Homo sapiens: one gene and its partner. The protein of the gene in region 1 purifies or fractionates together with the protein of each later gene. This does not show direct contact. Each region holds a gene or a part of one and is shown on either strand. Other genes may lie near its edges.

Evidence for each region. Proteins that work in one complex are often made in the same cells at the same time.
Region 2: the proteins of RNF139 (region 1) and INSIG2 purify together in Homo sapiens (affinity purification with western blotting, with the first as the bait; one study listed by BioGRID). This does not show direct contact.

Annotation. Positions count from the first base shown.
Region 1 is NC_000008.11:124,481,331-124,484,982, forward strand, and holds part of RNF139 (E3 ubiquitin-protein ligase RNF139), read left to right. Parts: intron 1-1,929; exon of another isoform or gene 1,930-2,077; intron 2,078-3,652. UniProt on the Homo sapiens protein: E3-ubiquitin ligase; acts as a negative regulator of cell proliferation through mechanisms involving G2/M arrest and cell death.
Region 2 is NC_000002.12:118,101,872-118,105,523, forward strand, and holds part of INSIG2 (insulin-induced gene 2 protein), read left to right. Parts: intron 1-1,325; coding exon 1,326-1,450; intron 1,451-3,652. UniProt on the Homo sapiens protein: Oxysterol-binding protein that mediates feedback control of cholesterol synthesis by controlling both endoplasmic reticulum to Golgi transport of SCAP and degradation of HMGCR.

The DNA.
Region 1 (3,652 bases):
TCGGGTACTTGGAGAATTGTAAATATTATGTTTTGTACCCTGATTTTTAGTCATAAGTTTCCAAAAGAGGGTAAGGGTATGAATAGACTTTACACATAAAAGAGTGAAACACTTTGTTATGTAACATGTATAGTAAGTTTTTATTTTTTCTTTTGTTTTTATTTGCCTGTTTTTGGTAATCCAAATTGAAAAGGCCTGAACTCTTTCATGAGTTGAGTTCATATATAGTTTCAAAGTTCCTGAATTGATTTGGATACCTGCCTCTTTTTGGCTACCTTGAAAACTCTAGTGAACTCTCTTAATCACTGGAGAATTGGACTGAGATCTCTGAGTTGTGATTTCAGTAAATTCTGTTCTCAAAATTTTTTATAAAGCAGCATTTATATACAGTCTTGATTACTTGTGCAAGTCACTTCCAAATCCTAATGAGAAACTGTCTCTGGACTTTTATATTTTCTTAGACCTACAGTTTAAATACCAAGAAAGGCTTTCATGTCTAATGTAAAAATGCAGTGAAACTTTGATATTATTCTGCAAAGGCCATGAGAAAGATGATTACTTTGGAGACTTGTTACTTAGGATATTGGTTTTTAAAATGAGAGCAGATTCTTCCCAAATTCCATAGGTAGGAACGTGACTATAAAAGGAAAATCTATGAACCCCATATACCTACAAACTTTGGGTAGGAATTAAAACAAACATATACTATTCTTGAAATGTTAACTCACTATTACATCTTGGGGGGTGTGATTTTAATCAGGATAGAGTATTGTCAGATTGTTACTTGCTGGGATACATCCAAATTTTGAGGTTGTAGTCTTACTACATTATTTGTCTATCTGATGCCTTCCCCTTTTTTTCTTTGATACATTTGCATAAAGCAAAATGGCACTTTTTCACTAGAAATGTTTCTAAAACCCAAATAATTTCTTCATTTGTGTGTAGTAAAAACAAGCTTCAGGAAAAAAGTTATTAGAATTTTAAAAATTAGTTATAAAATTATGGCAAAGCTCATGAATAGTTACTGAAGATTAATTTACTACTTTGTGAATAGCAAGTTGACAAAAATAATTTACAGTTCCTGCTTGACTTTCTCCCCTCTAAGTGGCATAAAGTAGAACTAGAGTTATTTTGTTTTGGTTTTGACCCAACTTAGAAGATTTGTTTTAAAGTTTCTGAAGTTTTGTCTCAGGAAAATAAGGTGGTTTTCCATGTAGAGAATGTAAGATTACATATGGCATCTGGTAGGCTGAATTAATTCCATTTTCTTGTTACCTTCCATGGAAGAAGTTTCTAATAAAAAAATCTTTTCAGGGCCGAGCGCAGTGGCTCACGCCTATAATCGCAGTAGTTTGGGAGGCCGAAGCGGGTGGATCACCTGAGGTCAGGAGTTTGAGACCAGCCTGACCAACGTGGAAAAACCCTGTCTCTACTGAAAATGCAAAATTAGCTGGGAGTGGTGGTACATACCTGTAATCCCAGCTTCTTGGGAGGCTGAAGCAGAAGAATCGCTTGAACCTGGGAGGCAGAGGTTGCAGTGAGCCAAGATCACGCCATTGCACTCCAGCCTGGGCAACAGGAGCGAAACTCCATTAAAAAAAATATAAAAAAAAATATATATATATATAATATATATATATTATTTAAATATATATATATTTAAAAATATATATATTAAAAATATATATATATATTTAAATATATATATATTTAAAAATATATCTATTAAAAATATATATATATTATTTAAATATATATATATTTAAAAATATATATATTAAAAATATATATATTTAAAAGAGCCTGTTCTGAGCTCACAACTCTTTGGGGGATTATTAGTGGCCCATTTTCTTGGGGAATCAGGTGGTTTGTATTTAGAGGTTTATATGTCTTCTACTTTATTGTGTCCTTTTGTTTTCCTTTTCACAGATGACTTGACATTTTGGCACAGAATACATTTTAAATCCCTGGACAGAGTCATCACTTAAATGAACTAGCCCTTGCTTATATGTGCAGTGGATTGTGAAATGCGTCTACTGTAATAATATGCAATGTCTTGATTACCTGCTGAAATAAGGTGGATAGATGGATTTTTATTTTATTTAATATTTATTTATTTATGTATTTTGAGACAGGGTCTCACTGTCACCCAGGCTGGCATGCAGTGGTGCGATCTCAGCTAACTGCAATGCCTCCCGGGTTCAAGCGATTCTCCCACCTCAACCCCCTGAGTAGCTGGGAGTACAGGCACGTGCTACCACCCTGGCATATTTTTATATTTTTGGTAGAGACAGGGTTTCACCATGTTGACATGGTCTTGAACTCCTGGCCTCAAGTGATCCACCCGCCTCAGCCTCCCAAAGTGCTGGGATTACCATTGTGAGCCACCACACCCAGCCAAGATGGATTTTTAATTTGGAGTTTGTCACTTTTTCTGTACTCCAGGGTATGGTTTCTCATTGTCTGAAACATAGATTTTATTTTTCAAGCAGGCTATATTTTGTGGTTGCCTTTAAAAACATCCAGATGTGACAGACATTTCCTAATGAATACTAATTGTACTTATTTTGTACAAAATATTGTAGAATCCATAGATGGACAGGGTAGGATCTTTGCTTTCTGTTATAGATACATGTGTAATAGGGTAGATTATACTTAGATAACTGCAGACTACAATATCAGGTGATATATGAGTGTTAAATGTTTCACTAAGTTCTGCAGGTATGCTGAAAGAACAGTTTCTATCAAAGAAAGTAGGTTTCTAGGATAGGTAGGATTTGAATAGTCAGGGATTGGGAGGTTGGGGACATCATTCCAAGCAAAAAGAATGTAAACACTGCTGTAGCTATAGTGGAGAAAGGAATGTGTTTGGGGAATCCAAGTCTGGAGCACTGATGTGTGTGTGTTAGGAGGAATATTACTGTAAAGCAAATTGGGTTCTTGAATGCCAGGAGCAAGAATGTAGATTTTAGTTGATAGTAATTTCAGAGCCGCTGAAGTATTTTGAGCAGGGAATGAAGAAAGGCAATTTGGTGATGGCTTGTAAATGGATTTGGACAAGATGAGGGTTTTTTGAGACAGACTGATTGATTGGTGTCACAGAAAAGGGAGATAGAGGTGTTAGAAGAATTTGGCAACTAATTGGCAAAGTTTGAGCATGTGGGGCTGGGTTGGGAGTATCTCTAAAAGAACAATAATGGTACCTTCAACTGAAATAGCAAATCACAAGGAAAAGCTGATTCTAGTTTAAGGCAAGTCGAGTTTCAGAACTTTGGAGATTTGCAGTTGTAGGAGTGAAAGTAGGTGAGTATTCAGATGTCATTCCCATTGTTGAAACCTTGGATAATAATGTGTTTATTGTAATCCTACTTAAAATATGCATTTCTGTCAGAGTACAAAGAAAGATGGTGTCTATGGAGTGGGGGAAGGAGAATTACCATTTTCTAAAAACATGTCTTGGTTTTCTGAGTGTTACTTTTGTAATGTGAAGAACAATAAAAAGAGTTGACTATTTTAAGAAACAGATTCAGCATTATACAGGAAAAAGGGAACTTGGAAGATGTTTCTAAGTCCGAAGGAAACTAGGAGGAAAAAAAATGGAATTTTGGACCCTTTGGAGAATGCTCAGAGTTAAGGAGTAGGAAATAAGAGC
Region 2 (3,652 bases), on another chromosome or scaffold:
AAAGAGTTGTGGACTAGAAAATGCATACAGTATTGCAGCATCTCATCTCGAGATAGAAGGGTGGTCACACAGCCTTTTTCAAATGCTGCACCATTGGTCTGCTAGGCTGTGATTTTTGATACTAATTGGTTTCTGTTTTTCTTCGAAGAGTGAATGCATTGCCTGTGAGATACAGCTGGCTAATACTGGGTAGGGGGAGGGCCTCTTGTCCCTCAGGCACTTAGATTTTGGCGTTGTAATTTCATGATTCCTCTTAAGTGGTATTGGTTATTTTAAACATGCTTTTCAACTGATGTGACAGTAGTGTCTTTATTGCCAGAATGGCACAACATAATCATCCTGTTTTTAGGAAGATTAGAATATTTTCATTAAATAGTCTTTTTAATAACTAATTTAGCACTTAAAATTCCTTCCCACTAAATGAATAAAATGTTGAGGTTTGAGAAATAAGAAAGGGATGAGAATATTTTGGGACTCAATCATTGACATTTTATATACAGTTATGTATAATTAATGACACAACATTCAAAGTGTTCTTTCCAAAACTAAGAGAAGTACTAAGATGATTTCTTCTTCTAACAGTGCACTTAAAATTTAACTGAAAATTTTAAATACCTCTACACCTTGTTTCCTCCATTGTTTCTATGTGCAGAATGAGTCTTACCTGTAGATTTCTGTTGTGAGTTTTCCTGCTTTGACAATATGACCTACAGCCTCATTAAAGGGCTAGAGTGGAAAGGAGTGTCAGTAAAAGGTGCTACATGCTGAAGACTAAAACGGGAAGCTGGTAGGGGCGAGACTGATCTACGTAAGAGGCCAGCCAGAACCTTCAGAACATTGTGTGTATGATGAGCTTGTTGTATACTTTTATACTTCTAGATTCTCTTAGATTTGTGGCATATAATAAATATTTTATGGTTTGGAGTTTAGAGAGAACATTACTTAACTGCTAACTGGTTTGATACTTTTTTCAGGTCTCGTAGGTATCAGTAGTAGAAAAGTAGCATGAATCATTTAGTAGCACGAATCATTTAGTCCAGTCTGCTAAATTGTGAATCATACATTTGAAGAGTATTTTGTTGATTATAATTTAGAATGTTGTTGTAATCATTTGCAATACTTTCTTCATTGGTGTTATCCTCATTTCATTTCCTTTGGAAGGTAAGTTAAAAAATATCGGTGATTGATGTGAAATAACTTTTTTTTTTGTTTTTTTTTTTTTAAGAATCTTTAAAATGCTTGTGGTGGTTGTAGTGATTCTTTTAGCTTAAGTGTTGCCAGTACAACATTGGAGGTAACTTAATTTTTTTCTTTTTTCCCTACAGCTGTGATTGGGTTATTATACCCCTGCATTGACAGACATCTAGGAGAACCACATAAATTTAAAAGAGAGTGGTCCAGTGTAATGCGGTGTGTAGCAGTCTTTGTTGGTATAAATCATGCCAGTGCTGTATCCTTTACTCTGTAATGAAATGCATAATAACAAAGTGGCTTCCAACAAACCAAAGGTTAAACAGCCCCTTACAACTTCACTGTTGTCAAATTATGATATGCCCACTTAGTCAGAAGAAGAATGTCAACCATATTGTTGAAACATCGGTGTAGCAGCTGTGCAATTATAAAGTGGGGTATAGCCTTTCATTTCATTGTGTATTTTTCACTATCACTTAGAAACTTTGCAAATTTGAAAACTTTACTTGTTTTTCTTAAATTTGGTTACTTAATTACTTTTGTGTAGTTAATCCAAAAATGGAACAGGTACATTTTCAGAGGAGTTTTTTCCTCTCTTTCTTTGTTAAGAATTGCTAATAAGTACATGTGGTAGCTTCAGGTGCTATTTTGTCTTTTGTTTTTCTTAACTTAAAGAAGCTTTTTTTTTTTAAAGGTAGATGCATTGGTTTTAATCAATACCGACAAACCACATAAACGGCATAAGTAGAAATACCAACTTAGACCTTGGCCAAAAAATAAGTTTCTACCCTAGTACATATTTTCAAAGTTTTATTGTTTGAAGATTCAGACATTTTATTTAGTGGTTAATGAGTATTTTTACAGTGTCTCAGGTAGCCCCTATTCCCCTTCCCCTTTCTACCTTCTCTGCCCAGAAAAAAATGTTTGCCCTCATAAGGTTTTCCTCCTATCATCCTCTTTATTTCCTCTCTTGTACTTCCTCCTCATTTGCTCTGACTTTCCTTGGTAGAAGAGGAACTAGGAAATGCTATTCCTGTCTTTTTCTAGGAGATGTGGTTTAGACAATGAAGGTGGCAGGAGCCTTGGGTACTTGGAAAAGCAAGAAGTGTGACTCAGGCTGCCAAAAGTTTGCTCTTATAACTCTGCACTGGACTTGGGGCAGGCAGAGTTAGCTAGCTGGAGAGAGAGGGTGGGTCATGTGTCAAGTAGACCCCTGTGTCTTTCCCAAAAAGTATTGAGGTGTTTTGGATAAGCTTGGGGACAGAAACCATAGAAAAGAGCAGGGTCCTAGATTCTGAAAACACATCTGCCTTCCTCTGCACAGTTGTGCTGGCTGTTGCAGGTCTGTGAATTTGGAAGTCCCTCAGTGGCTATTATTAGTTTTAATTTCTGTTTGTATTGAGGACATTTCCACATGTTTATTTTGGTGAACTTTTTGAGATTTAAGATTTTATAAAAAATCTAGTGGTCAGGAGGGCTTAAAAAGTTAAAATCATATACTATTATATCTAGAAGAGAACTTAGAAATCACCTAGTTCCACATTTTCTTTGTAAAGATAATAAACAGAAGCTAAAGAGGTTAGGTAATTTACTAAGTCATTTATACTGCGACATTGCAGCAGAGCTGAGAACAGCCCTGAGACAGCCTGACTAAAGTCTAGAAACATCTCATTTTCCTACCCAGGAACCTCAAAACTGTGTCAGTTCCTCTCTGTCCGGTGGATTAGATCTTTCTCTCTTAGACACTTCCACTTTGATTTTTGTTTTTAAGTAGAGAAATTTAAATAGCCTTTTCTGAAATTCTAAAAACTTAATAAGTTCAAATTCTTTGCTTTGTTCACTCTCTTTCTCAATGAAATACTTAAATATAGCAATCTTAGATATCCTGTTGTCCTTCAAGTAAAGTCCAACATGTTTACCAAATTTATAGCATACACTTCTAATATTAGGTTACTTAGACTTTACAAAATCATTTGGCACTATTTTTTTATTTTTTGAGACGGAGTCTTGCTCTGTCACCCAGGCTGGAATGCAGTGGCACAATCTTGGCTCACTGCAAGCTTCGCCTCCCGGGTTCACGCCATTCTCCTGCCTCAGCCTCCTGAGTAGCTGGGACTACAGGCACCTGCCACCACACCCGGTGAATTTTTCTGTATTTTTAGTAGAGATGGGGTTTCACCATGTTAGCCAGGATGGTCTCAATCTCCTGACCTTGTGATTCGCCCACCTCGGTCTCTCAAAGTGCTGGGATTACAGGCATGAGCCACCGCACCTGGCCCATATGGCACTATTTTAAGATTGATATATCTATTTACGCTGGAAGCCTCCTTACTTCGCTGTGACTTTTAATTAAGTTTAGTTAGCAAACATGAAACTCATTTAATACCAAATTCCACTCTTTACATGAGTGTTTATTTCATAGGGAAATCAGAGCTCTAAACCTTTTCTTTGAACTTTAAGT